Homo sapiens: one gene and its partner. The protein of the gene in region 2 interacts with the protein of the main gene of each other region in a pairwise test. Each region holds a gene or a part of one and is shown on either strand. Other genes may lie near its edges.

Region 1 (15,960 bases), on a different chromosome or scaffold from region 2:
GGGAGAAACCCTTAGTTCTGGGAATTGCCCACCCCTTTCCCAGAAAGGGAATAATCTACCCCTTGTTTAGCATATAAATCAGGAAATGGCCATAAAAGTGGCCAACCAGGAGACTTAGGGGTTGCTCCACCTATGGAGTAACCATTCTTTATTCTTTTCTTTTTTTTTTTTTTGAGACAGAGTCTTGCTCTGTCACCCAGGCTGGAGTGCAGTGGCGCGATCTCGGCTCACTGCAACCTCCACCTCCTGGGTTCAAGAGATTCTCCTGCCTCAGCCTCCGGAGTAGCTGGGATTACAGGCACCCACCACTGTGCCCAGCTAATTTTTGTATTTTTAGTAGAGATGGGGTTTTACCACGTTGGCCAGGCTGGTCTCCAACTCCTGACCTCATGATCTACCCACCTCTGCCTCCCAAAGTGCTGGGATTACAGGCGTGAGCCACCGCGCCTGGCCTTATTCCTTTACTTTCTTAATAAACTTGCTTTCGCTTTACAAAAAAAAAAACAAAACTTTTTTTATATAGTGAAAACTGAAATGTACCAAGTGTGCATCATGTGGAGAACACCTAAATACAGTTGACCTTTGAACAACATGGGGTCTAGGGGTGCCAACCCCCATGTGGTCTAAAATCCGAGGATAACTTTTGAGTCTCCCAAAACTTAACTACTAATAGCCTACCACTGACTATAAGCCTTACTAATAAAAAGAGCTGATTAACATATTTTGTATATGTATTAACACTGTCTATTTACAAGAAGAATCATCTATCTGAAATGGCAGGTAATTGCAGTTGCAGACCTCAATTTACAATATGTATCAAGGAATTCTCGGGAGCACTTCCAGGATCACTAGTGGCACTTCTTATGGGTTTCCATATTGCATTAAAGATGATGAAAAAATATGGAGGCACCTCAAGCAATAACTTTTTACTGAGAAAAGCAATTTACTTACTGGAGAGACAAACTGCTCACGTGGGGATGGTTAGTATCACATGGCCTTGCAACACTTTTCACAGTAACAGCAACAGGAAGTGGCTATGAAATTATTGTATACTGAATATATAGAAAATAATGGCAAAAACTGCAATTACTTTGGCACAACCTAATAGTACTACAATATGTACCACAGTTAATTTTATGCAGTTATGATTTAATACTGCATATTTACCTTTGTTTACATTTCTCTCAACTGCATGGTACCATGTATGGTCTCTGTGTGCTAAGTTTTGATAAATTTTAACCTTTGATAATAGATTTGTATTATTTTATGGTAATAAATGACAATTTAAAAAAGTCTGCATAAGTTGACCTGTGCAGTTCAGACCTGCATTGTTCAAGGGTCAACTATAAATTTATAGTATAATCACATAAGAATCAGGTACATATATCTTCATGGACACAGAAAGCCCTAAGGATAAACTGTTAAGTAAAAAATCAAATTGTAAACAACTTGTATAATGTAAAATTAATTACAAAAATTGAGTCATTCTTGTCATACCCAACTAAAACAGAGTCAACAGGCCTAGGGGAAAAGCACTCAGGGCACAAAACATTTCTCCCAAAATGTAATTCTCTGTAGGCCTGGCTGCTGAAACTGCCTGCTGTAACCGGAAACCAGTTTTATCTAAGGGCTACTGAAAGAAACTAGTGCAACTCTAAGACCAGTGTTACCCACTGCCATCACTCACCAATCAGAGCTTGACAGCTCCCCAAATCTAGTGCCAATGGACTTTCTTGAAGAGCTATATGTAATATGTCTCCTTTTTTATAAGACCGCTAACCTTCTCCTTTTTCTGTGGACATACCGAACAATTGGTCTGCATGAATGCTCCAAAGTGCAATTACTTCCTCCCAAATAAAACGTTCTGTTTTCAGAGATTTGTCTATTGACTCTAATGATAACACAATCCTATCATTATTTTTAAATGTGTTAAACCACCCCCAAAATAAATCAAAACCTTTCCTGTGATTCTTTCTAGTAGACGAAAATAGGATTTAACCTTCCATGTTAGATACTTGTGTAATATGTGTGAGTTTTCTGATTACGTATTACATTTGTAAATTGATAAAACAGTGGGTAGTGCCAATAATATGCAGGGAGGGCTATAGATTCATCTGCCTGGATTTAAGTCCTGGTCCTACTACAACTACTATATGATCTGGGGAAAGTTATTAAACCTTTCTGTGGCCCAGTTTTCTCATCTATAATGAGGCTAATACAGGATTATTGTGAGATTTAAACAGTGTCTGACGTTTAAGCAACTTAGCTCAATAAATATTGGTTGTTCCACCACCCAAGTTTATAATACACACTATAATCCAAACAGCTTTAAATAGTGCCATAAAATTAAGTCAAATAAATTACTGTCTTTAATTTGTGAATTATTTCATATGAAAATAACATATCTTAACTTATATGTTGATTGGCTATGTTTCTTTTCCAATATAGCAAAATCTTCATTAAACCAAATCAAAACAGAGTTGGATGGTTCGCTAATGGAATATGATCCCTCATTTTGACCCTTATTAAAAATATTTGAAAATAGTCCATTTTCCTCAGCAGAAATAGGGTAGATGAAAATTCACCTTTCTTTGATCATTTTTTTTTTTTTTGAGATGGAGTCTCACTCTGTTGCCCAGGCTGGAGTGCAGTGGCATGACCTCGGCTTACTTCAACCTCCACCTCCTGGGTTCAAGTGATCCTCCTGCCTCAGCCTCCCAAGTAGCTGGCATTACAGGTGCGCACCATCACTCCTGGCTAATTTTTGTATTTTTAGTAGAGACGGGGTTTCACCATGTTGGCCAGCCTGGTCTCGAACTCCTAGCTCAAGCAATCTGCCCACCTCGGCCTCCCAAAGTGCTGGGATTACAGCCATGGGTCACCACACTCAGCCTTTTCGATTATTTTGAAGATGAACTCTCTAATACAGTGCTATGCAAATTTAAAAGCACAAAGTTTATTCTACACTGACCTTATAATCAGCATAGACGTCATCATATCACCATAAGAAACCTTTCCTGACTTCATCACTGGGTACCTATCTTGTACTCCCATGAGCCAGCCAATACCCAGTCCTCCAAAGATCATACCATTCTATAATAATTACCTACTTACTTGTGTCTCAGGCTAGACTCTAAGTTGTTGAGGGCACCTACAACATTTCCTGGCACAGAATAAGTACTCTGGAAATACTTGTTAAATGACTGAATGAGTGGTGACACACAACTTATTTGTTTGCTTACTTTAAATTTTCTCTCTCATTCAAGAGGAAATTACACAAGATTTGTTCGAAGCCTCTAGCTTTACTTCATTACTAAATAGCATACTACTAATTAAACCTAGAGTTTTATTTTTACATTTTCAAAAAGCAGGTAAATAACACAAATAACTTAACAGTCCCATCTTTGATTTACTCAACTGTTTAAAACAAAGTTTGCATCTTAATGCCAACAAAGAAGGTGTGGGTAATATAAGCAAGGAAGACCATTTTTCAATGCTTTAAAATATGAGCACCATTCTTTCTTTCTTTCTTTGTTTCTATCTATCTAGACAGGCTCTCACTCTGTTGTCCAAGCTCTATCTATCTATCTATCTATCTAATCTATCTATCTATTATCTATTTAGATAATCTATTATCTATTTAGATAGATAATCTGTCTATTATCTATTTAGATAATCTGTCTATTATCTATTTAGATAATCTGTCTATTATCTATTTAGATAATCTGTCTATTATCTATTTAGATAATCTGTCTATTATCTATTTAGATAATCTGTCTATTATCTATTTAGATTATCTATCTATCTATCTATCTAGACAAGCTCTCACTCTGTTGTCCAAGCTGGAGTACAGTGGCCTGATCATGGCTCACTGCAGCCTCAATCTCCTGGGCTCAATGCATCCTCCCACCCCAGTCTCCCAAGTAACTAGAACTACAGGTATGTGCCATGAGGCCTGGAGAATTTTTTTATTTTTTGTAGAGATGGGGGTCTCCCTGTGTTGCTCAGTCTGGTCTCAAACTCCTGGGCTCAAGCAATCCTTCTGCCTTGGCCTCTCAAAAGTGCTGAGATTACAGGCACATTCTTTCTTTAATAAAACAATTAAAATACTAATAAAATTTAAATATAGCAGGCAATAAAATCTAAGTGTAGGCAACAGATACAATAGTATATGTTTATTTTCTGAATAATACAAATTTCTAAAAGCATTATATAAACATAAGTAGGAATTAGAGTGGAAATTAAATTAGTTCTAAGGGCCACACAAATAAATTTCCCTGTTTATAGAAAAACTAAATAATTGGGGGCAGGCCGGGCGCGGTGGCTCACGCCTGTAATCCCAGCACTTTGGGAGGCCGAGGCGGGTGGATCATGAGGTCAGGAGATCGAGACCATCCTGGCTAACAAGGTGAAACCCCGTCTCTACTAAAAATACAAAAAAATTAGCCGGGCGCGGTGGCAGGCGCCTGTAGTCCCAGCTACTCGGGAGGCTGAGGCAGGGGAATGGCGTGAACCCGGGAAGCGGAGCTTGCAGTGAGCCGAGATTGCGCCACTGCAGTCCGCAGTCCGGCCTGGGCGACAGAGCGAGACTCCGTCTCAAAAAAAAAAAAAAAAAAAAAAAAAAAAAAAAAAAATTGGGGGCTAAAGAACTATATGTTAAAACTATACATTAAAAACTCTAATAGAATATTCTCTTTTTGAAACCAATTTCAAGACTTAATTGAGAATAAATATCGATTTTAGGGGTTGTTATGGGTTGAACTGTGTCCCTCCCAAAAAGCTTTAAGTTCTAACTCCCAATACTTCAGAATGTGGCCTTATTTGGAAATAGGGTTATTGAAGACATAATTAGTTAAGATGAGGTCATATTAAAGTAAGGTATGCCCTTAATCACTATCACTGGTGTTCTTATAAAAAGATGATGTGAAGACACAGAAAGCCAAAGTAAGCTAAGGATTGCCAGTGACACCGAGAAGCTAAGAGAAAGATATGAAATATATTCTCCCCTAAAGCCTTCCAGAGAACATGGCCCTATTGACACACTGTGAACTTCTGCCTCTAGAAATGTGAGAGAATAAAATTCTATTGTTTTAAGCCACCTAGTTTGTGGTAACTTGTTACGGCAACCCCAGGAAATTAATACAAGGAATGATACATCACATGCTTCTATAAATAGTGTAATATTAATTAAATCTACTGGTTTTATTTTGACTTTTTTCCAAGTGAGATGATATGGCTTGAAGATTGGTGTCCTCCCAGACACCTAACACCCAATGTGATACTATTAAGAGGTGGGGCCTTTGGGGAAGTGATTAAGTCATGAGGGCTCTGCCCTCATGAATGACATAAGTGCCCTTATAAAAGAGGTTGAAGGGAGCTGTCTTGCCCCTTGCACTAAGTGAGGATGCAGCAACAAGGGGCCATTTTTGAAGCAGACGGCACACCCTCGTTAGACACCAAATCTACTGGTGCCTTGATATTGGGCTTCCCAGCTTCCAGAACTGTGAGAGATAAATTTCTAATATTTATAATCCCTTACCCAGTTTAAGGGATTTTGTTATAGCAGCCTAAATGGACTAAAACACAAAGTGAAAACTGCCAGGAAAACTTCAATACTTTACTTTGATTGGTAAATAAATATTAATAGTGAACAGCAGAGGGCGTCGCTGATCAGAATTTGGAGTTAAGATTGAAGAAATTATACAGTCCACCTCAAAGCTCCATTTCAGGCAATGGACAGTAAGCAGAACTGGTCACATTTATCAGTCCCAAATTTGAAAAAATGAGAATTTTCTTGGACAGTTAAGAGAATTTAAATTTTCTGATTTCCATCTATAAGCAGTTTATATAAACTGAAGATATACTTTATGTACAGCCACCCTGGCTAAGCAGCCCCCATACTCTCTCTTGCCACTATAGACTATACTGTTGTTTAGACTTTCTTCATCTTACTCTTGGTCCAAGTATCTCTGTTTAATTTTCCTCTCCAAGTACTAGCTGCAAACTCTGTGGTGTCAAGAGAAGCAAGAAGGAAACTGAAAAAGGAGGAGGTTGGTGTTGAGAATATGAATCTATAGGATAAAGGTAAAGAAGAAAACAACCTTCCTGCCATTGATATAGGATACCCAAACAAACTTCTCCTTTTAGCAAGGTAAGAGGAATCAGAAAGGATGCACGAATGAAGTGAGGACAAAAAAGGAAAGGGAAAAAGGAAGAAGGGATACAAGGGGAGGGGCAGGTGAGATAAAGAAGAGAAGCAAGAAGAAAAAAGTTAGCCCCTTCCTAACACTACTCCTCATTTCCTTCTTACTACCTTCAGAACTTCTTTTTAAAGTTCCACCCTCCCCTAGGGTCTGTCCTTCCAGATCAGCCCTGCCCTAGGAGTTGCTACCAGTTTTAGGACTTGGATGAACCCCTACACTTTCACCCCCATAGCTGACTGGCAGGGAAGAGCGCAGGTACAAAGGAATTCCCTGTATCAGCTTGCAGATGTACAATAGAAGGGGCTATGTCATTGCTATTCAAGGAAGAAATATTCAATTCATGGTCCCATTAAAATTATTACATATAGGCTGGGCGCGGTGGCTCACACCTGTAATCCCAGCACTTTGGGAGGCCAAGGCGGGTGGACCACCTGAGGTCAGGAGTTCGAGACCAGCCTGGCCAACATGGCGAAACCCCGTCTCTACTAAAAAAATTAGCCAGGCGTGGTGGCAGGCGCCTATAATCCCAGCTACTCAGGAGGCTAAGGCAGAACGATCCCTTGAACCCGTGAGGCAGAGGCTGCAGTGAGCCAAGGTCATACCACTGCACTCCAGCTTGGGTGACAGAGTGAGACGCCATCTCAAAAAAAAAAAAAACAAATGACATATAACTGTTAGGTCCTGAGTACTATTAATCTTATAATTTAGGACTACTATAGTTAAATAAAATTGAGGGCTAGTCTGAAAGCAAAAGGTACTATGTATAACAGTGTTACAGGAAAATGAGTTATAATTCCCAATAATCGTACTACAAATTTTTAGAATATAATGTTTCATAAATGGGATACCAATTCAACACTCTAACTTTTCAAAATAAAAACAAATGTATGACTATATCAAATTTAAAAGACTGATACATACATATACATGCACAAACATACTTGTATCCCTAAAGGTCGCAATGCGTTGGTGAAGAAAAAATGCAAGATTGATTGCAGCTATATCAGATCTTATACAAATATGAACAAAAGAATTTTTGTTCTCATGCAGAAAAGAATGAAAGGATTCTGAGAAGAATGCTGTGACCAACCAGTTACCAAGCAAAGAGGGAGCCAGGCAGACCCCAGAGGCAATGACAGCAGTTAGGAATCTAATACAATGCTCTGGGTGAAAAGTAATTATGGGATATAAATAATCCCACAGATCAAAAAAAAACACCCAAATGAAATAAATTAAAATCCTCTTAAATAGACTGACCCAGACATTCAAATGAGATTTACTAACTGCCAAAGAAAATAAGAGTTGCTGTTTAAAATGCTATTAGCCCAAATTTTACCTGTGCATCTGACTGTGTCATCTGCTCAGCTAACTGTAAACAAGAATGGAAGGAGAAAAGAATGTCTTCACACAAGCTAGTAATTATATCTTTGTGTTTCAACTGGCTTTTTATTATGGACTGGTGCTTAAGGCTCTGCCTAAATGAATAAAAAGAAAAGAATACAATCACCACAAGTAACACATCAAGTAACTTAGGACCTCTAACAATATCTACCTTGTAGAACATTTAAAAAAACAATCAAAAAGCATCATATATCACATAATATAACTAAGATGTGCCCAGTTTACCTCTGAAGCAGTTATATTTGTTTAAATAAGTTGCTAATTTTTTCTCTGTGTAAAATATTAATTGAATTCTTACTATGTATGAGGCATTCTACCAGGCCCTGGAGACAAAGGGGTCAAACAAATGGACACAATCTCCGCCTTACCTGCATGAAACTTGTGGTCTAGCATGAGAGAGAATGTTAAATAATTTTAAGAATAATTAATTAGGGCTGTGATTTGTCAAATGACAGAGTCTAAGGTGCTACAATAGAGAGACCTAATCTAACTTATTCTTAGGGTAAGGATATCAATCTAACTTAATCTTAGGGTAAGGATATCAAAGAATGTTATCATGAAGATATAACTCTTAAGCTGAGAACTGAAAGACAGTAAGCAGGAGTTAGCAAGGTACACAAAATAGGAGAGAGAAGCATCCTAGGCAGATGGAAAAACCACGAAAAGACTCTGGGACAGGAGAGTTTGGTATGTTTGAGGAACTAAGAGTAGGGAGAGCAGCATGAGACAGGCTGGTGAAGGAGGCAGCATCCACAGAGGATTAGGTTGTTATTCTTAATCAAATGGGATAGACTTCAAGCAATAGAGTAACATGATCTGATTTACTTTTTAAAAGATCATTCTGCTGGGCAGAAAATGAACTGGAAGAGGGTAAGAGTGGAAGATAATCAGTGATGATGATAGTGATGTGGCTAATTCCTTGAGTATTAACTATGTGTCATGCACATTTCTAAGCATTTCACAGTGATGAACTCAATTCTCACTATAACCCTGTCAAGAAGTTGCTATTATTATTTCCATTTTCAGATGAGCAAACTAACGTTCAGAGAAATTAACCAAATAGCCCAAGGGCTCAGAAGGAGTAAATGATTTCAAGAATGGATTTAAGCACATGTGATACAGCTCCCAGGCAACACTCTTAACCACTGAATGGCAACTTAATGTCCTGGTAGTACAAGAAAAGTACCTAAGACCTGAAAATACACTGACCTTTAATGTTTTATGTATGTGTATAAAGTAGATATTCTTAACCATTTTTACATCTCAACCACATCTCCTCTCACCCCTAAGAATCTGATGAATGCTACAGGCACTATCCCTGGTGACCCTTTAAAATGCTTCAGTTTCAGAAAGTTAAAATTACTGTACAAATGGAATTAAGTGTGAACAACTTAAAAGTACCTAATGAAAAGATTATATTCAGTTTTAATTATAGTTATCAATTTATCTAATCCTAGAAATAGGATACTTGATAGCTGGTTAAACAACAGTAGCAGAAGAAAAGTGGTTAAGTTCTAGTCTGGCCCATGGCCCATTATTTCTGAAGTACTAGCTAACTAGGAAGAACATTTTTTTTAATTTTAGAGGCCACAGGGTAAAGAAGTCCAATTTGGCTTGAGAGCTACATGTAGAATATCTGGATTATCAGACAGCAGTGTCAGTGAACATTAAATTCACACAAAATGTTTTAAATGCAATCTAAAGAATCATGAATAATTAAGATTGGGGAATATGGAAAACATTTTCTAAAAAGTAAAAAATAACAAACAAACTTACTTAATTATAAACTTCCAAGTATTGGCATGAAATGCATGGTCCATACTGGAAATAACAGAGCAGATATCCAATAAAGAATGAATAACTGCAAAGAAAGATAACAGAACTTTTAAGACATCCAAATGTCATGGGGGTGAGTTTCTCCTATAATTAAAACTATCTACTGAACAATTTCAACATTTGATTGAATTAAAATACGTAACACAACTTGGAAACAGTTGTGTCAAAAGAATTATTTAAACTATTTAAGTGTCACACTTGTTAATGGTTTTTATAAATATTGAATATTAACTTCTGAAGTTTATACCTACCAGATGACCTAAATAAAACTAAAGATGTTCAGTGGAATAAAAGTTGTACCCTATTATAACTGAAATATTCTACAGATATAATTCTAATCCAAAATGACAAAACAAATTGCTAAGGAAAGAAAATCTAAAAAGGAAGAATTCAAATTAATATCCATGGTATTCATGCAAGGCTTTTACTCAGTCTGTGGTAGATTATTTATAAAAATGGCCACAATGACTGCCCTTTGTGAATCCACACTTTTCTACAATGACTCTGGGCTAAACGCTATGACCTGCTGTGGCCCGGGGGACAATAATAAAATTAAGGCAAGCAGAAACTTGAAAAGTGCTAGCACACAGCGACCTGCTCACACTTTTGCTACTCTTAGAAACCCTGAAACCACTGGCATCAGGTATCTGAGATAGGGTGAACCTGCTGGATGATGCACATGGCTTTCTCAAGTACTTCTGCCTCTGCCAACAGCCAGATGTGAATGAAGTCACTGAAGTCACATGGGTGAGCTAGTGCCCCAGGTGGATCAGAGAAAGTTGTCTCAGGACATCCCACCCTAAACTGCAGACTCACAGAATCATGAATAAATAAATAGTGAATAAATAGATTTTGAGGTGGTGTGTTGCAGAGCAACAGGTGCCTGATACACTGCACAAAACCAACTTACTCTCTTTATACCAAAGTTTTGAATGCAAACTTTGCCTTTATATTGTTTTTCAAACTCTTGTTCATAATCCATTAATGAGTGATAAAATCAATGAAGTGTGTTACGACCAGCAATTCTTTAAAAATAAACTAGTATTGGCTGGGCACGGTGGCTCATGCCTGTAATCCCAGCACTTTGGGAGGCTGAGGCAGGTGGATTACCTGAGGTCAGGAGTTCAAGACCAGCCTGGCCAACACGGTGAAACCCTGTCTCTACTAAAAATACAAAAATTAGCCAGGTGTGGTGGCGGACGCCTATAATCCCAGCTACTCATGAGGCTGAGGCAGGAGAATCGCTTGAGTCCGGGAGGCGAGGTTGCAGTGAGCCGAGATTGTGCCACTGCACTCCAGCCTGGGCTACACAGTGAGACTCTGTCTCAAAAAAATAAAATAAAATAAAAATAAACTAGTATAAAGTGCATCACATGTAAAATGAGTTATTTCATTATAATATGTATATGAGAATAGACATATTTACATACACATATGCACGTATTTATATGTATTCTGGAAGGAAATATAAACTGCATCTCAATATCAGTTATGGTTAAAAAAATGTGAAAGTTATTGTCTCTGAATATGGACAACCTCAGAGATTATAAAGTTATATAAGTTAATCATTGTGGAGAAATTACAGTAACTAAATACGCAAATCTAGGTTAAGGTACCCAAAATAAATTTTACAAATTCCAAATTTCAAGATTAAAAATTTATTTGGTAAGATTTAAATCAATTTTAATGCATAATTAGTAAGAAAATAACATGAATCATTAGAGACAATTTTAATTGATACATGATTTATAGTCACCATATACTAAGCAGAAAGTTTTCTTCACTCACCTATTACCATATTCAAAATATCATCATTGTCATCTACTAAAGGGTCCATGCAAACCATGTCCAGCAGTTCCATTAACTGCTTTTGAAGAGAATAGGCCTCCTTGAAAAGAGCCTGGAGAAGGTCTGAAACTAGGTGTAAACACCCAGAATACACAGATTCACTATTCTGATTACGGATAAATAAAAATGAGAGAAAAAACAAATCAAAGCTCAAGAGCCAAATTTACTTTAATTCATACTATTAGAGATCATAAATTTACTGAATCACATATTCATTCATTGTTTAGTGAACATCCATTAAATATAGTGTGCTTCAAGAGATGCAAGCATGTATAAAATATTATTTCTGACTTCCATGATCTTGCAAATACAGAACTAAAAAAGGGTAACATTAGGCCAGGTGCGTGACATTTTTAGCATCCTATCAGCAAAGAGAGGTATTAATTAACTAGTGATTTTCATTCGCCCAACAAATAGCAATATTAAAACTGTCTGTGACCCATAAATTCTAGGCAAGCTTTTGTGCCTCAAGGCTACCTCTGGCATGTAGAGATGGACTAAATAAGGATTAACTTTCCTTTATAAAAGGAAGTTCTGACATCTAATCATAATGGTAATTGAATATTGGTCAATGCAACATGACATAACTATTTCAGGATCCCTGTGTCTGTCTCAACACAAATTCTTAAAACTTCTTTCTTTATAGAGGGGAAATAAGATAAAACTAAAAAACCCCAAAAAGCCACTTTTAATGACTTCCTTAAAACCACTTTTTTTGCAACAATTATTTACTTACATGTTCTTTATTCTATGGAAAAGTTTATTTCAATAATATAGACTAAAATGTAAAATCTTATACAAACATTATTTTACTCAGCCCCTATGCACATTGATTATATACCATTCAAAGTATAATTAGACCTTTACTCACCTTACAATGCACAAATGTGCTTTTAATTATATGAAGGACTGAGGAGGGGAGACTCTGAATATTTTCCAAAATGATGGATTCCTGTGTGGCACAGATATGCTGAACACATCCTGTGAGAGCTCCTAAGAGCTGCACCATTGTCTGTGAATAAGGAAGGAAATTTCACTTAGAATATATTTTTTGTGCACTGAAAAGGTATTAGTCAGCATGCTGGGTGCTACAAATACAGCAATGAACAAAACACAGTCTCTTCCTCTTTTCACAGAACTTTAGTCTATCAGAACTACAAATACTGGAACAACTGTCTAGCCATTTAGAATACTAACACAAACTTCAAAACACATGGCAGGTGTTCCACACATATCCTTGAAAATACAGGTAGGGTCAGCTAGCTTGATGACTTCTCTTCTTATAAGAGTTTATTATTCAGAATTCATGTTTCTATATTCACGTCTTTAATTCTATAAATTTAATTCCAACATTAGGCCATTACATAAGAATACATAGCTAATCAGTATCAGTATAAAAATTTTGACATTCTTTAAGCTCCCTCTCTCTCCTGCTTTCTAATACATTTGACTTACTTGTAAAATATTCCTTAGAGTGGTCTGGATTTCCAAATTTTGGCTTGACAGTCCTCTGGCTTGACTGGTTAATTCATACATCATGTCATCGAATAATTTCACAGTCTGTAAAAACAAATCAAGTAATAAACAGGAATAAGAGAAATCACTAGAAAAGACAAGACAAAACTTTACAGAGAAAACACAATACGATAATTTGATTTTGCACTAGTAACATCCACAGGCTATCATCTAGCTTAACAATTGTACCTAATTAAGCACAAAATACAGAGAAAAGGTATTTTTACAACATAATCCCCCCAAAAGCCCCAAACAGAAATTTATTTTCCATTTCTATGGTTTGAATCTATTTAATAGCATCAATTTTTTTAAAAAATCACTCAAAGTTCATGTTTTAGAGATGCAAAAAATAAAAGTATTACTTTCGCACAATAAATTTGACTGTCTTGAAGAATCCACATTCATACAGTCATTTACAAGGGTATTTTCTGGAAGGAATTTGCACTGAATCGCCTATTCACTACTCACTTATTTTCTAACCAGTTTCCTTTTGACCCAATTCAAGCTAACCTTCCTGAATTAAGGGTATAGTAAATGACCTTACAAACAAGCTTTTTGTCTGTGAAAAGTTAGCCACCCTAGATCTTAATACTTGGATCTTTCTAACAATTTAAATGACCTAAACATTATAAGAATAGCAACACAGTCAACAATACAATGTAGCTAAAGAAAATACTGTTTCCCATAGGCCTGTTAACACTCAACATCCATTTTCATCTATGTAACAGTTGAATCTTTTTCTGGTGGTCAAGAACAAATTCTAAGAAATATTTCAGATAGAGAATCATCAAGTGACTATGAGTACAAGAAATTTGAAAGATTACGATTCAAAGCTAAAGTTAGAAACCCATTTCAATAAGAGATTAATTACAAATAATGTTTCATTTTGGCACCAAAGTATCTTTAGTTCCCTCCATTTAAAACAAAAAAGGTATGCTTGTGCTTTTCAGAGAAAACATATACCATATATATCTAAAATGTAATAATGTATTCTGTGAATTTAATGTTTTCTCTTAGTTACTTGATTTTGCCAATATTCCAGCTTTTCTTTTTTTTTTTTTTTTTTTTGAATTAAGGGTTTCACTCTGTCACCCAGGCTGGAGTACAGTGGCTTTAAAATACAAGAGCATTTAAAATTGACTACAAATAATTTAAATTCAGTTAGTAAAGGAACCACACAATCTGAAAATATAAGTTCTTTTTTTTTTTTTTTTTTTTTTGAGACGGAGCATCGCTCTTATTGCCCAGGCTGGAGTGCAATGGCACGATCTTGACTCAATGCAACCTCCGCCTCCCAGGCTCAAGCAATTCTCCTGTCTCAGTCTCCCAAGTAGCTGGGATTACAGGCACCTGCCACCATGTCCAGCTAATTTTTTGTACTTTTAGTAGAGACGAGGTTTCATCATGTTGACCATGGGTGGTCTCGAACTCCTGACCTCAGATGATCTGCCCACCTCAGCCTCTCAGAGAGCTGGGATTACAGGCATGAGCCACCGTGCCCAGCCTGTAACAGTTTTTAACTGCCTAATGATCACACTAACACCATTATAGTCTCACATGAGATCTACTTACTCCTTATTTTTATTTTGAATATATTTGATATATTAGAAAAAGAGAGCCATAATTAATAATAAATCATCTAAGACTGAGGCTAGATTCCTTATAACATGTATTTTCAGGTAATAGTATTATACCTTTGGTAACACTTGTGAAAAGAAAGTCTGTTCCAATGTCAGGTGGTTCATATGAGGTAAAAACATTTCTACAATAATTTTCAAAATTTCTGTAAAGCAAATAACAAATTTTATAAAAATATTGTCATGTCAGTCAACAAAGGCCACTGCCCTTTATTAAATGCAAGAATACTACCAATCTAAAGCTTGATACACTTTCAAAATACCACATTCTATACAGAGAAACTATTAAGTAGTAGCCAAAAAAAAAAAAAAAGAGAGAAAGGAAACGACCTACATATCCAACAATTGTGGACCAGTTAAATAGGTGTGTGTACATCTATTGAATAGGATCTGCCATCATTAAAATGACATTTTAAAACATGAAAAATGTTCACAATGTAGTTAAACAAAAAGTTTCCAAAATATAACACCAATTTTAATGTAGATAAACATGTACGAAGAATGATGGATAGGCTGGCAGGAATATACGGAAATGAGATGAGACTGTTCTCATCAAAATCTTAACCATTTCAGATTAGATGTTTTGTAATCTTTTCTGTTTTTCTATATGTTTCATATTTTCCACAATGAACATGAATCACTTCTATACTCAAGATAAAAAAATAATTTACTTAAAAAAAATTATGCCACGCATGGTGGCTCACGCCTGTAATCCCAACACTTTGGGTGGCTGAGGCGGGAGGACTGTCTGAGCCCAGGAGTTAAAGACCACCTGGGAAACATGACAAGACCTCATGTCTACCAAAAAATAAATATATAAATAGAAAATTAGCCACGCATGGTAGCACGCACCTGCGGTCTCAGCTACTTGGAAGGCTGAGGTGAGAGGATTGCTTGAGCGTGGGAGATGGAGGCTGCAGTGAGCTAGCTATGTTCGCACCACTACACTCCAGTTTTGGTGACAAAGCAAGACCCTGTCCCCCAAAACAAACAAACAAAAACACAGGCCAAGCATCATGGCTCAGACCTGTAATCACAGCACTTTAGAAGATGGAGGCAGGAGAATAGCTTGAACCCAGGAGTTCAGGCTGCAGTGAGCTATGATCGCACTACTGCTCTCCAGCCTGGGCAATAGAGTGAGATCTTGTCTTGAAAACAAAACAAAACAAACTCTGGGGCCAGGCTCAGCGGCTCACGCCTGTAATCCCAGCACTTATGGAGGCCAAGGCAGGAGGATCACTTGAGCTCAGGAGTTTTGAGACCAGCCTGGCCAACATGGTGAAACCCCATCTCTACTAAAAATACAAAAATTAGCCAGGCGTGGTGAAGCATGCCTGTAATCCCAGCTACTTGGGAGACTGAGGCAGGAGAATCACCTGAACCTGGAAGGTGGAGGTTGCAGTGAGCAAAGATCACGCCACTGCACTCCAACCTGGGTGACAAAACGAGACTCCAACAAAAACAAAGGAAAAAAAAATTAGGTCCCATTACACAACGTAGATTCAAATTATAAATGAATA
Region 2 (15,960 bases):
AATCAACATACAAAAATCAGCAGCATTTCTAAATACCGACAGGGAACAATCTGAAAAAGAAATTCAAAAATTAATCCCATTTACAATAGCTACAAATAAAATTAAAGACCTAGAAATTAACTTAACCAAAGAAGTGAAGGATCTCTACAATGAAAACTATAAAACATTGATGAAATACATTGAAGAGGACACACAAAAAACAGAAAGATATTGCATGTTCATGAGTTGGAAGAATCAGTACTGTTAAAATGTCCATACTAAACACAGCAATCTACAGAATCAATGCAATTCCTATCAAAATACCAATGACATTCTTCAGAGAAATAGAAAAACAACCCTAAAATTTATATGGAACCACAAAAGACCCAGAATAGCCAAAGCTATCTTGAGCAAAAAGAACGAAACTAAAGGAACCACATAACCTGACTTCAAATTATACTATAGAGCTATAGTATCCAAAACAGCACGGTATGGGCATAAAAACAGATGCATAGACCAATGGAACAGAATATAAAACTCAGAAACAAATCCACACACCTACAGTGAACTCATTTTCGACAAAGGTGCCAATAACATACATTGGAGAAAGGACGGTCTCTTCAGTAAATGGTGCTGGGAAAATGGGATATCCATAAGCAGAAGAATGAAATTAGACCCCTATCTCTCACCATATACAAAAATCAAATAAAAATGGATTAAAGACTTAAATCTAAGACCTCAAACTATGAAACTACTAAAAGGAAGCATTGGGGAAACTCTGTAGAACACTGGACTGGGTAAAGATTTCTTGAGTAATACCACACAAGCACAGTCAACTGTAGGATATAATAAATTCCTCTTCAAAGGTTTTAGCCTGTAAATTGTTTTTTTTTTTTTTTTTGAGACGGAGTCTCGCTCTGTCACCCAGGCTGGAGTGCAATGGCATGATCTCGGCTCACTGCAAGCTCCACCTCCCAGGTTCACGCCATTCTCCTGCCTCAGCCACCTGAGTAGCTGCGACTACAGGTGCCCGCCACCATGCCCGGCTAATTTTTTGTATTTTTAGTAGAGATGGGGTTTCACCATGTTAGCCAGGATGGTCTTGATCTCCTGACCTCGTGATCCACCCACCTCGGCCTCCCAAAGTGCTGGGATTACAGGTGTGAGCCATAGTGCCCAGCTGCCTGTAAATTGTTAAGTACAATGAGTTTTGAGATCCTCTCCAAGGAACCAATGTATCAGTATGTTCAGCTCCCCTGTTCTTTGTTCTCCATTTTAAAGGTTAACTTCCTCCTTCTTCTTGCTTTCTTGCCCCTAGTTTCAGTAAACAACCTTTTCCATCAGTTCTAATCAGTAGTTTACATCTGTTCCCCTGGTCATCTACTCCATGCTGAGTCTCCCCTGGTCAATTGCTCTGTCCTAAGTCACCCCTGGTCACCTGCTCTGACCTGAGTCACCTTTAGTCACCTGTTCCTAACCATCCTTCCTGCCAAACTACTCACTCCACCACTCCGACTCATAACCCTGCTCTCTTTAAAATAGCCAGTCGGAATTAGCTTAGACTGTGCAGTCCAACCCTAGCCAATAGGGGAATGACACAGCAGTAGGGGCTACTTGAGTCAGGAATAAAACCCCCTTCCCCTCCCTTGTTCAGATGTGCTCTCGCCATTGCTCCATCAGTGAGTCACACCCTTTTATAGAAGTAAAATTGCCTTGCTGAGAAAATATTTGCAAACTATCCATCTGACAAGGGATTAATAACCAGAATATATAAAAAGTTCAAACTACTCTATAGGAAAAAAATCTAATAATCTTATTTAAAAATGGGCAAAATATCTGAAAAGACATTTCTCAAAAGAAGTGTGAAAGGAAAATATCTTGGGCCTCCAAAATCACTAAGGAAAACTCAAACTGGAAACTGCTTATGGCAAACCTGCCTTTCATTCTATTCAAAGTCACTCCTCTGCTCACTGAGATAGATGCATATCTGATTGCCTCCTTTGGAAAGGATAATCAGAAACTCAAAAGAATGCAACCATTTGTGTCTCACCTATCTGTGACCTGGAAGCCCACTCCTTGCTTTGCTTAGTCTTCCTGTCTTTGCTTCAGGTTGTCCCGCCTTTCCAGACTGGACCAATGTTCTTCTTACATATACTGATAGATGTCTCATGTCTCCCAAAATGTGTAGAACCAAGCTGTGCCCCAACCACCTTGGGCACACGTCGTCAGGACTTCCTGAGGCTGTGTCACGGGCGTATCCCCAATCTTGGCAAAATAAACTTTCTTTTTTTTTTTTTTGAGACAGAGTCTTGCTCTGTCCCCAGGCTGGAGTGCAGTGGCGCGATCTCAGCTCACTGCAACCTCCACCTCCTGGAATCAAGCAATTCCCCTGCCTCAGCCTCCTGAGTAGCTGGGACTACAGGCACGTGCCACCATGCCCGGCTAATTTTTTTTTTTTTTGTATTTTAGTAGAGACGGGGTTTCACCATGTTGGCCAGGATGGTCTCAATCTCCTGACCTTGTGATCTGCCCACCTTGGCCTCCCAAAGTGCTGGGATTACAGGCATGAGCCACTGCGCCCGGCAGCAAAATAAACTCTCTAAACTAACTCAGACCTGTCTCAGATTCTCTGGGTTCACAGAAGACATACAAATGGCAAATAGCTATATGAAAAGGTGCTCAATGTCACTGATCATCAGAGAAATGCAAATCAAAACTACAATGAAATATCATCTCACCCCAGTTAATATGGCTTTTATACAAAAGACAGGGAATAACAAAACCAGGCATGGTGGCTTATATCTGTAATCCCAGCACTTTGGGAGGCCCAGGTGGGAGGATCACTAGAGCTCAGGAGTTGGAGACCAGCCTGGGCAACATGGTGAGACCCTATCTCTACCAAAAAAATACAAAAATTAGCTGGGCATGGTGGCACGCACCTGTAGTCCCAGTTACTTGAGAAGCTGAGGTGGGAGGATCACTTGAGTCCTGGATGTTGAGGCAGCAGTGATCCATGATCACGTCATTGCACTCCAGCCTAGGCGACAGAGCGAGACCCTGTCCCAAAAACAAAACAAAACAATTTTTTTTTTTTGAGATGGAGTCTCGCTCTGTCGCCCAGGCCGGACTGCAGTGGCGCTATCTCGGCTCACTGCAAGCTCCGCCTCGCGGGTTCACACCATCTCCTGCCTCAGCCTCCCGAGTAGCTGGGACTACAGGTGCCCACCACTGCGCCTGGCTAATTTTTTGTATTTTTAGTAGAGACAGGGTTTCACCGTGTTAGCCAGGTTGGTCTCGATTTCCTGACCTCGTGATCCGCCCGCGTCGGCCTCCCAAAGTGCTAGGATTACAGGTGTGAGCCACAGCGGCCAGCCAAAACAATTTAAAATGAAAAAACTTGGGCTTATGCTGAAGGGAAGTTCAGATCAATTATAAATATTTATTAACCAATTACCATATGGAATTAATTACCATATTAATCAATTACCAAGGCAAAGCATTATGGAGGATATAAGGAGTCCTAAGACAACCTATGCCCTAGGTAAATTTAAAACATAATTAAGGAGGCAAAATATAAACATATAAAAAGAAAACTATCAAGAGACAGCAGTATAAGTATGAGACACGGAAAGAATGAGAACACTCCAATGTGGCCCTTGCCACAGTGCCCTGCACCCCCACCCAGCTGTTCTTCTCCACTCTCTCTTGCATATGACTTAGCTCCTAAGTATTCCTATTGTTCTTAGTAAAATCCAAATTGCAGGCCGGGCATCGTGGCTCACGCCTGTAATCCCAGCACTTTGGGAGGCCAAGGTGGGTGGATCACCTGAGGTCGGGAGTTCGAGACCAGCCCGACCAACATGGAGAAACCCTGTCTCTACTAAAAATACAAAATTAGCCGGGTGTGGTGGCATGCACCTGTAATCGCAGCTACTCGGGAGGCTGAGGAGGAGAATCGCTTGAACCTGGGAGATGGAGGTTGTAGTGAGCCGAGATCGCACCATTGCACTCCAGCCTGGGCAACAAGAGTGAAACTCCATCTCGAAAAAAAAAAACTCCAAATTGCCCAAACAGTGGCTGCTACTCTGCAAGAACAATTCTTCCCTCTCTGAGATAAGAATCATCCTTAATCAATTGTTTCTGAAACCAGCTGAACTCCAGCTGAGCACCCTTGTTAAAGCCCTGTACGACATTTCACCCTCCTTCCCCAAGTTAAAAGGCTCTTTCAGAGACTTCTTATGCCTGGCATTTCTGAAAAGGGACTTCTGCAAACAGTTCTCTGTTTTGTTTTCTAAGTGAGTATTTTAGATAGTAAATTCTATAATAGGTCAAGAAGGACAAGATTTTCTAAATTGAGTAATTAGGGAAGATTAGAAAAAGCAGGCCTTGAAATGAGAGCCTTAAATGATTTGTATGATTCAGAAAGACTGTGAGATGGGGATGGAAGGAGCAAATACCCAAGAAGATAGAAATATACCATGCAAAGTTCTCTGTGACCAGACAAATTAACAGCCAAGAGTGAGAGCAAAATAAAGGCACTTTCAGACATACTAAGGTTCAAAGTTTACCACCTGTATTACATTTCTGAAAGAAATAAGTATTACAGCAAAACAAAAATACAGGAAAAAATAACATCTGGGATGCAAGAAACCATAATGAACAAAGAAAACAAAAATCTTTATAGTTAAATCTAAATAACTGCTGATGTACAATGTTTTTAGATTTTTTTTCTTTTGGTAGAGACAGAGTCTTGCTATGTTGCCCAGGCTAATCATGAACTCCTGGCCTCAAATAAGCCTCCTGCCTCAGCCTTCCAAGTAGCTGGGATTTATAGCAACCACACCTGGCTAATTTAAAATTTATTTCGTAGAGACACTATGTTGCCCAGGCTGGTCTTGAACTCCTGGCCTCAAGTGATCTTCCTGCCTTGGCCTCCCAAAGTGCTGGGATCACTGGAGTGAGACTAGACATATGTGCAAATTTTGATAACAAAGTATGTTTACAGGCAATGGGATGGACTAAAACAGATTCATCTCTTTGCCTCTAATAGTGGCAATGGTGAGTACTGAGCTTGGAGAGGCAGGCTGGGGCTTCACTGTGAACAGCCTTACAAATGTGCATAGGTCTTCTTTGTTATTAAAAAGAATTTCCTCTGAATACCTCCTCAAACTAGTATATTTTTTCTTCCTATTTGTTTTTGTTTTTTTTTTTGAGACGGAGTTTCCCTCTTGTTGCCCAGGCTGGAGTGCAATGGCACGATCTCGGCTCACCGCAACCTCCGCCTCCCAGTTCAAGCGATTCTCCTGCCTAAGCCTCCTGAGTAGCTGGAAATACAGGCATGTGCCGCCACGCCCGGCTAATTTTGTATTTTTAGTAGAGACAGGGTTTCTCCATGTTGGTCAGGCTGGTCTCGAACTCCTGACCTCAGGTAATCCACCCGCCTCAGCCTCCCAAAGTGCTGGGATTACAGGCGTGAGCCACGGTGCCTAGCCTTCTTCCTTTCATTGGTCAATTTCATACTGCCTCCCTCCCTTGTTGTTTGTTTACATAAAGCTTCTATCACCTCACCCTATGGCAAATGTTCGCTTGAACTCCTAATTTTGAACTTATAATGATCTTTCTCAGGCTGTATCCTCAAAATCCGTGTGTGTGTAACATTGCTGACAACTCATCGTCTTGAAACTTTCCTTTTGCTTGACTTTTACAACCAGATTTCCTTCTACTTCCTCTGTCTCTGGGTTTCTCATTTTAGTCCTCTTCCTAAATATAAACATACCTCAAAGTTATGTTCTCAATTCTCCTCTCTTCTCTCTCTATAAGTTCTCTTTCCCCCTTGGTTAATTCGTCCATATTTCTGGGCCTACCCCTTTCTCAAGCTGAATTCAATATTTCCCAGTGCCATCTGGATATCCTCATGTACATCATATTCAATACATTAAAATGATGGCTGGGTGCAATGGCTCATGCCTGTAATCCCAGTCCTTTGGGAGGCCAAGGCAGGCAGATCGCTTGAGCCCAGGAGTTGGAGATCAGCCTGGGCAACGTGGTGAAACCTGGTCTCTACAAAAGATAAAAAAAATTAGCCAGGCGTGGTGGTATGTGCCTGTAGTTCCAGCTACTCAGAAGGCTGAAGTGGGAGGATCACTTGACCCTGGGAGTTCGAGTCTGCAGTGAGTGTAATTGGGCCACTGCACTCCAGCCTGGGCAACAGAGCAAGAACCTGTCTCAAAAGAAGAAAAAAATTAGGCCAGGCGTGATGGCTCACGCCTATAATTCCAACACTTTGGGAGGCTGAGGTGGGTGGATCACTTGAGGTCAGGAGTTCAAAACCAGCCTGGCCAACATGGCGAAACCCCATCTGTATTAAAAATACAAAAATTAGCCAGGTGTGGTGGTGTACATTTGTAAACTTAGCTACTTGGGAAGCTGAGGTTGCAGTGAGTTGAGACTGCACCACTGCATTCCAGCCTGGGTGATGGAGAAAGACACTGTCTCAAAAAAAAAAAAGTAAAATTAGTACATTAAAATGAAACATCACCTTTTCTCTTTTTCTCTGAAGCATGATCTTTCCAGTTCTATTGTTAGCATCACATAACTATTCTCCTAGTATCTAGACAAAAAACCTGAGCGGTTTCTCAAACCTGTCTTTCCTTTGTCTACCAAATATAGCCATCAAGTCCTATCAATTTTCCTAATACTTCTTTTCCTTTTCTTTTTATTCTTACCAGTTCCAACCTAGATCAAGTTCTCATTACTTGCCTAGAATATTGCTAAAGTATCCAGTTTACACCCACTATCTTGTTTCAAAGCCTTTCATGTCTAAGATCCCAATCATCTTTCTAGCCCATATCCTGGAATACCTTACACTTTAATTAAACTGCAATTCGTTGTGTTACCCAAACAGGTTCTGCCTGTTTTCCTTATTAACTTTCACCCTCTTCATACCGTTCCCTTCATTTGGGACCATGACTTTCAGTGAGTCAATAATCTTTCAGCCAGGCGCAGTCGCTCACCCCTGTAATCCTAGCACTGTGGGAGGCTGAGGCAGGTGGATCACCTGAGGTCAGGAGTTCCAGAACAGCCTGGTCAACATGTCAAAACCCTGTCTCTACTAAAAATACAAAAAAATTAGCCAGGTGTGGTGGCACACACCTGTAATCCCAGCTACTCGGTAGGCTGAGGCAGGAGAATTGATTGAACCCAAGAGATGGAGGTTGCAGTGAGCCGAGATTGCCCCACTGGACTCCAGCCTGGGCAACAGGGAGATTCCGTCTCAAAAAAAAAAAAATCTTTTTTCTAACTATTAAGCAACATCTTTAGAGAAGTAAGAGGATTAAAAATGATGATATAATTTCCTCTCATGTATTTGTTTTGTCTCATAAACCCATATGAAGAAGTGAAACCTCATTAAATACAAAGTGATTGGAGAACTTAAACAGTAATTGTTTTCCCTTTGGTTTGTCTCATTACTACTGGTTTATGGAATGACTACAAAGATTGTATATCTCAGACAAACTCTTCAGTGGTAACATTCCTATATCACACTATTATGTTAGCAACTTTAAATAAAAAGGTTACAAAGTATTTTCTGTATCAATGAAGATAATCTTTCCTCCTGGGTAGCCACCAGCTCCTGGAAGTTGAGCTGTCACTAGGAAGCAATTAAAAATTTATATTAATAGGAGTGAATAAACTTTGTACACATGACTATATAAATACACATGGAATCTGCTGTTGCAACTCTTTAGTACATTTTGCAAAGAGTCATGATCCTTTCGTTTCTAAACAACATGTTATATTTTCATATTACTTAACCAGTGTGAAATTATAAGTATTCTGCCAGCATAGTTGTTATTCAACAAATAATTTCACTATCTTTCACAATGGAAGATATTCGTGAAAGTTAGTTCTCCCAAAGAATGGAAATAAAATTTAAATATTACTAATTTTCTTTCTTTTTCTTTTCTTTTCTTTTTTTTTTTTTTTTGAGACGAGTCTAGCTCTGTCGTCAGGTTGGAGTGCAGTGGCGCAATCTCAGCTCACTGCAATCTCCGCCTCCCGGGTTCAAGCAATTCTTCTGCCTCAGCCTCCCAAGTAGCTGGGACTACAGGCAGGCACTGCCACACCCAGCTAATTTTTATACTTTTAGTAGAGATGGGGTTTCACCATGTTGGCCAGGATGGTCTTGATCTCCTGACCTCGTGATCTGCCCACCTCGGCCTCCCAAAGTGCTGGGATTACAGGCTTGAGCCACCGCGCCCAACCTACTAACTTTCTTTCTACAAGAAATAGTCACAAATATGGCCGGGCATGGTGGCTCATGCCTGTAATCCCAGCACTTTGGGAGGCCAAGGTGGGTGGATCATTTGAGGTCAAGGGTTCAAGACCAGCATGACCAACATGGTAAAACCCTGTCTCTACTAAAAATACAAAAATTAGCTGGGTGTGGTGGTGCATGCCTGTAATCCCAGCTACTCTGGAGGCTGAGGCAGGAGAATTGCTTGAACCTGGGAGGCGGAGGTTGCAGTGAGCTGAGATCGTGCCACTGCAGTCCAGCCTGGGTGATAGATCAAGACTCCATCTCAAAAAAAAAAAAAAAAAAAGAAAGAAAGAAAGAAAGAAAGAAAAAAGAAAAAAAAGAAAGAAATAGTCACAAATAGGCCGAGTGGGCGGATCATGAGGTCAGGAGTTTGAGACCAGCCTCATCAACATGGTGAAACCCCATCTCTACTGAAAATACAAAAAACAAAAATTAGCCGGGCATGGTCGTGAGTGCCTGTAATCCCAGCTACTCAGGAGACTGAGGCAGGAGAATCGCTTGAACCTGGGAGGCGGAGGTTGCAGTGAGCTGAGATCGCGCCACTGCACTCTAACCTGGGTGACACAGCGAGACTCCGTCTCAAAAAAAAAAAGTCACAAATATAATTTATGCTATATAACTAATATGTTACCTTTAAATTAATGTATGTCAAATTTTAAAAATGCATTTACTTTTTTTTTCGAGACAGGTCTCACTTTGTCGCCCAGGCTGGAGTACAGTGGCACGATCTCGGCCCACGGCAACCTCTGCCTCCCGGGTTCAAGTGATTCTCTGACCTCAGCCTCCCCAGTAGCTGGGATTACAGGCATGTTCAACCAGGCCCAGCTAACTTTTGTATTTTTTAGTAGAGACAGGGTTTCACCATGTTTACCAGGCTGGTCTCAAACTCCTGACTTCAGGAGATCCTCCTGCCTTGGCCTCCCAAAGTGCTGGGATTACAGGTGTGAGCCACCACGCTAGACTGCAATTACTTTTTATGTAGTAGTAGTTAACACTAAGGAGCTACTTTATACCAGGTACATACATTATTTCATTTACTTTTCAAAACAATCCTAACATTTGGCACTGTCATTATTTCAATTTTATTGGTGGGGGAAATTAGAGAAGTAGAGCAACTTGCCCAAGGTCACACAGCTACTAACGATAGAACCAGGATTGAAGTCCGGCATTTTGATTCCAGAACTCCTTTCTTTTTTTTTTTTTTTTTTTTTTTGAGACGAGTCTTGCTCTGTTGCCCAGGCTGGAGTGCAGTGGCGCGATATCGGCTCACTGCAAGCTCCGCCTCCCGGGTTCACGCCATTCTCCTGCCTCAGCCTCCCCAGCAGCTGGGACTACAGGCGCCCGCCACCATGCCCGGCTAATTTTTTTGTATTTTTAGTAGAGACCGGGTTTCACCGTGTTAGCCAGGATGGTCTGGATCTCCTGACCTTGTGATCCGCCCGCCTCGGCCTCCCAAAGTGCTGGGATTACAGGCGTGAGCCACCGGGCCCGGCCAGAACTCCTTTCTTAACCACTTTGCCAAGTTCCTTCTCCATAGCTCAAAGAAATGCACAGTAGTGTATTTGTGGAAAAGGAGATATCTTTCGTTATTTTGTTTAAAACAATTTTGTTTTTAAGTCTCTCTTAGGGCCAATTTTATGCCATGGAAAGTGAAAGATTCTAGGACTCAATAGATTTTGTGTCACTCTTCTAAAAAAGATATAGAAAAGATGGAATGGGAAAAACTGAGACAGTGGACTCCTCACCAACACATTCATACACCCATTCAACTTCTCTCTATTTCTACTCAGGTGTTCATAGTGCAGCACATACATCACCTCAAGGATCACACATTCAAAGACCAGCTGTATAACCACGGGCAGTTTACTTAATCTGCCTGTGTTTTAGTTTCCTTGCAAGTATGTTCAGATATGAGATTATTTAGAGTATCAGGCACATAGTAGATGTTTGATAAGTAATAGCCATGATTATTATTGTTATTGTTGTTATATATCCTTACCACAGAGGGTATGAGAAAGCTGGGTTTTTCCAGTACGAAATTCTGTGAAATACAGAAAAAAATGATTTTAAAAATGCATAATTTCCAGATATTTTCATAAAGAATAAAACATGGCTTTAGAATATTACTGTTTTCTTTTTCTTTTCCAACTGGCAAATCTTACTTATAAAGTATCTCGGATGTTATTTTTTATTTTTTTTTTGAGACAGAGTCTTGCTCTCACTCAGGCTGGAGTGCAGTGGCACGATCTCAGCTCACTGCAACCTTCACCTCCCGGGTTCAAGCGATTCTCCTGACTCAGCCTCCTGAGTAGCTGGGATTACAGGTGCCTGCCACCACGCCCGGCTAGTTTTTGTATTTTAAGTAGAGATGGGGTTTCACCATATTGGCCAGGCTGGTCTCAAACTCCTGAACTCAGGTGATCCGCCCACCTCAGCCTCCCAAAGTGCTGGGATTACAGGTGTGAGCCACCACGCCCGGCCTTATTTGTTTAATATAAATTAATTTAAATCAAGTTTTCCTTAGTAACAGTCATATAAATGAAAGTTTAAGGCCGGGCGCGGTGGCTTATGCCTGTAATCCCAGCACTTTGGGAGGCTGAGGCGGGTGGATCACAAGGTCAGGGGATTGAGACCATCCTGGCTAACACTGTGTAACCCCATCTCTACTAAAAATACAAAAAATTAGCTGGGTGTGGTGGTGGGCGCCTGTAGTCCCAGCTACTCGGGAGGCTGAGGCAGCAGAATGGTGTGAACTCGGGAGGCGGAGCTTGCAGTGAGCCGAGATCGCGCCACTGCACTCCAGCCTGGGTGACAGAGCGAGACTCCGTCTCAAAAAAAAAAAAAAAAAAAGAAAGTTTAAGACCCTACCACCTGGGGTAAAGTGCGGTGACTCACACCTGTAATCCCAGCACTTTGGGAGGATGAGATGAATGGATCACTTGAGGTCAGGAGTTCGAGACCAGCCTGGCAAACATGGTGAAACCCCATCTCTACCAAAAATACAACAATTAGCTGGGCATGGTGGCTCATGCCTGTAATCCTAGCACTTTGGGAGGCCGAGGCGGGCAGGCTGCATGAGCTCAGGAGTTCGAGACCAGCCTGGGCAACATGGTGAAATGCCATCTCTACTAAAAAATAAAAAATTAGCTGGGTGTGGTGGCGTGCACCTATAGTCCCAGCTACTTGGGAGGCTGAGGCAGAATTGCTTGAACCTGGGAGGCAGAAGTTGCAGTGAGCCAAGATCAGGCCACTGCACTCCAGCCTGGGCAACAGAGCGAGACTCCATCTCCAAAAAAAAAAAAAAAAAAAAAAAAAATCAGCCAGGCGTGGTGGCAGTTGCCTGTAATCCCAGCTACACAGGAAGCTGAGGCAGAATTGCTTGAACCTAGGAGGCAGAGGTTGCAGTGAGCCGAGATGGCACCACTGCACTGCAGCCTGGGAGACAGAGCAAGACTCCATCTCTAAATAAATAAATAAATAAATGAAAATAAAATAAAGACCCCACCACAGGAAAGAAAGCCTGGGGTTCCCCTACTGAACTGAGGTCCTTAAAGGGGAGCTGAAGTAGTCTTAAACTGGTGCCATCCCCTAGCTACCAGCAAAAGCAAATTCGTTCTGGAGGAAAACTTTCCTACCTACCAATCCAGGTCCATTGAACTTTCATAGATTAAAATCAAACAATAAGCTCAGAAACACCAATAAATACAGAAGAAGGTAAGCCACTAAGACTGAGTCAACAGAAATAATGAAAACCAGATTTAGTGCCCAAGTCAACAGAAAAAAAAAAAAAAAAAACAGATTTAGTTCTCCAAGGACAGCAAATACTGGAATTCCCAGATGTGATACACAGTGTAGCTATGCATGAATTGCTTTTTAAAAATAGAGGATAGGACGGGTGCAGTGGCTCATGCCTGTAATCCCAATACTTTGGGAGGTCAAAGTGGGAGGATTGCTTGAGTCCAGGAGTTCGAGACCATCTTGGGCAACATAGCGAGACCCTTTATCTATTATTTAAAAAAAAAAATAGAGGATATAATCAGGGAAGAGGGAATCTAGTCTCTATGTTCATGGAACATTAATTGCCTAGAAATAAAATCAGCCTCATTATTCAATTACCTTTTGAACAAATAAGTGAAAAAAAATCTATTATCAGCTGGGCGCAGTGGCTCACGCCTGTAATCCCAGCACTTTGGAAGGCCGAGGTCAGGAGATCAAGACCATCCTGGCTAACATGGTGAAACCCCGTCTCCACTAAAAATACAAAAAAATTAGCTGGGAGTGGTGGCAGGCGCCTGTAGTCCCAGCTACTCGGGAGGCTGAGGCAGGAGAATGGCGTGAACCCGGGAGGCAGAGCTTGCAGGAAGCCGAGATTGCGCCACTGCACTCCAGCCTGGACCTGGGTGACACAGCGAGACTCCGTCTCAAAAAAAAAAAAAAAAATCTATTATCTTCTATAGGAATCACAAATAAAAGATGAAAAGTGTTGATAAGACCCATCTGTTAATGTTCATATATATTTTCGTTGCAGTACAGAATGATCTCATGTTATGATAATTGAGATTTTGTAAGTTCCAAAATACTTACAATTTATTATTGGTTGTTTATTTAATTATATGTGTATGTATACACATAGATGTGTATGTGTGTGTGTATAATATTTCATTTAACAAAATATTAAGGTTCTACCTACCTCCAAAAGCTTCTGTAATTGCCATACTTTCAATTCCACCTCCTAGTAACTTACTGGAAATAGAAAGAAAGCATTAGTAACAGGAATAGAAATAGAAATATTAAGAGAGGAGAAAGTATTCATATCATTAGTATCCTTCCTATCTATGTATCTATCTATCTATTCTATCATCTACCTATCTATCTACAGAACATGAACAGCAATTCTTGGCTGAACAAATAGCATGCCACTTGCTAGATCACAGGTTCTATTGTGTATGGGCAAGTGGATCAGCAAAACAAATGATAAGCCCTATCGTTCTTACTTCAATAGTAAATGGAACCTGGGAATACTGCATGCTGTAGGCTTAAAAAATAATAATAATAAATTATTTTAAGAAAAAACTTAAAAAAATAGTAAATGGGTTAGCAAGGCCTTATGTCTTACTAGTCTTTAGAATTGAATTGGAGTTACAGATCGTCTTAATTATTATTATTATTATTTTTTTTTTTTCGAGATGGAGTCTTGCTCTGTCGCCCAGGCTGGAATGCAGTGGCGTGATCTTGGCTCACTGCAGCCTCCGCCTACCAGGTTCAAGAGATTCTCCTGCCTCAGCCTCACGAGTAGCTGGGATTACAGGTGCCTGCCACCACGCCAGGCTAATTTTTGTATTTTTAGTAGAAATGGGGTTTCACCATATTGGCCAGGTTGGTCTCGAACTCCTGACCTCAGGTGATCCGCCTGCCTTGGCTTCCCAAAGTGCTGGGATTACAGGCATAAGCCACCATGCCCAGCCCATCTTAGTTATTAATTGGGTATTTAATATTGTGCTGGAACTATGTTTCTATAGTCAATTGAATTTTCAATGTTTTTTCTTTTTCTTTTTTGAGACAGAATCTTGTTCTGTCACCTGACACAGGGCTAATTTTTTATTTTTTGTATGGCTGGGGTCTTGCTATGTTGCCCAGGCTGGTCTCAAACTCCTGAGGCTCAAGAGATCTGCCCACCTTGGCCTTCCAAAGTGCTGGGATTATAGACATGAGCCATCATGCCCGGCTTCAGTTTTTAATATACTGAAAAACATATGAAAAACAGGTATTAGGAAAATCCAGTGATTGTCATTATGGTCAGGTTATCTCACATAAACCAAATATTATGGAGGACATGTCAGAATAGTAAATGTCAAAGATGTTGTAGGTAATGCTAGCAGTTAGAAGAGTAACTGTCAGATTCTGACAGCATACATTTAATTGGTAGCCCAATGTTGTAGTGCATTTAAAGCTCTGAATAAGAAAAGGCCTAAATTTAAGTCATGATCTCATTCATTCATTAAATGCAACACATATTAATTGTGTTAATTGTGCTAAGACCTGGTAGGGGCACTTTAAAAACCTTGTATGTAGTCTATTAACATGATTTTTTGGGATGTGATCACAGGTCAGACAAAAATTTAAGATATATAGATAATCCAATACATTTACATTTACATAGTTTAAGAGAGCAATTTAAATGTAAATTGAAACAATGTTGGAAGTTATCCACAAATTTAGTGAGGGCTGCAGACTTCAATAAGGAAAAGAAAAATCTAGATAGTGTACCTGCACAACTTAAATCTAAAGGACATGGGCTAAGCGATCAACCCATTTGGAGGGAATACACTTGGAAATCTTATAGGCCCAGCAACTATTTTTTTCTTCAACTTTTATTTTAAATTCAGGGGTACATGTGCCAGATATGCAGGTTTGTTACATAGGTAAACGTGTGCCATGGTGGTTGGGCTAGCAACTATTAAAGAAAGCTTTATTTGTCCCTCTTCTTCCTGAGAAAAATTACCCTGGAAAGCTATACCTCTGGAAAATCCCAGACAAAATTCCTGGTTGATATGTAATCTCAATCAGCTGAAAAGGTAACCCCAAAATTTACCTGTGAGGATACCCCAAATTATTTGGGATAGCACAATTGTTTCCTTTTTGAGACTCAGGAAAATTTAGAATTAAGTGTAGAAATAGTGTTTTTAAATATAGGGAGATTTAAAAATAGAGACACAAATCAAACCCATAGATTACTATTTTCATATTAAATTTGGCAATATGGGCATGGTGGCTCATGTCTGTAATCTTAGCACTTTGGGAGGCCGAGGGAGGTGGATCGCTCGAGCCTGGGAGTTCAAGACCAGCCTGGATAACATGGCGAAACCCAGTCTCTACAGAAAATACCAAAATTAGCCAGGTATGCTGGCCTGTGCCTGCAGTCCCATCTACTCAGGCTGCAGTGAGCCGTGATGGAGCCACTGCATTTTAGCCTGGGTGACAGAGTGAGACCGTGTCTCAAAAAATAAAATAGAATATAAATAAATAAATTTGGTAATAACCTGTGCATATTTGCTATTTGAGACCTTTTAACGTTTAAGATAATTTGACCTTTTTGTAATGGATTGGCCTCTGACTGATTAAATGGTACATTCCTTCAATTTTCAAGTTGATAACTAATTTTATAAATAGTATTTGAACATTTAATGGTGCCTACAACTCACTATACTTCTAAATTTATTTGAGTTACAAAAGATATTTAGGTAATTGGGAAGATTTTGCTGTTAATAATTAGATAATTAGACAAAGTTCTTTTTTTTTTTTTTTTTTTTTTTTGAGACGGAGTCTCACTCTGTCGCCCAGGCTGGAATGCAGTGGCGTGATCTTGGCTCACTGCAACCTCTGCCTCCTGGATTCAAGCAATTCTCTGCATCAGCCTCCTGAGTAGCTGGGATTACAGGCACCCGCCACCATGCCCGGCTAATTTTTGTATTTTTAGTAGAGACAGGGTGATCCTGTCTTTAGTAGAGACCTTGTGATCCACCCGCCTCAGCCTCCCAAAGTGTTGGGATTACAGGTGTGAGCCAGTGCACCTGGCCAACAAATAAAGTTCTTAAAGAAAATACAATACACTAAATGTATAAACATAATTAAAATGTTTAAGAGAATTTAATCTTGTTATA

Evidence for each region.
Region 1: the proteins of DMC1 (region 2) and FIRRM interact in a two-hybrid assay, tested with the Homo sapiens proteins (one study listed by BioGRID).

Annotation. Positions count from the first base shown.
Region 1 is NC_000001.11:169,799,509-169,815,468, reverse strand, and holds part of FIRRM (FIGNL1-interacting regulator of recombination and mitosis), read right to left. Parts: intron 14,587-15,960; coding exon of another isoform or gene 14,564-14,586; coding exon 14,498-14,563; intron 12,849-14,497; coding exon 12,744-12,848; intron 12,301-12,743; coding exon 12,160-12,300; intron 11,395-12,159; coding exon 11,229-11,394; coding exon of another isoform or gene 11,221-11,228; exon of another isoform or gene 11,083-11,220; intron 9,466-11,082; coding exon 9,381-9,465; intron 7,679-9,380; coding exon 7,540-7,678; intron 1-7,539. UniProt on the Homo sapiens protein: Regulates PLK1 kinase activity at kinetochores and promotes faithful chromosome segregation in prometaphase by bridging kinase and phosphatase activities.
Region 2 is NC_000022.11:38,542,368-38,558,327, forward strand, and holds part of DMC1 (meiotic recombination protein DMC1/LIM15 homolog), read right to left. Parts: intron 13,043-15,960; coding exon 12,990-13,042; intron 10,341-12,989; coding exon 10,299-10,340; intron 7,631-10,298; coding exon 7,558-7,630; intron 1-7,557. UniProt on the Homo sapiens protein: Participates in meiotic recombination, specifically in homologous strand assimilation, which is required for the resolution of meiotic double-strand breaks.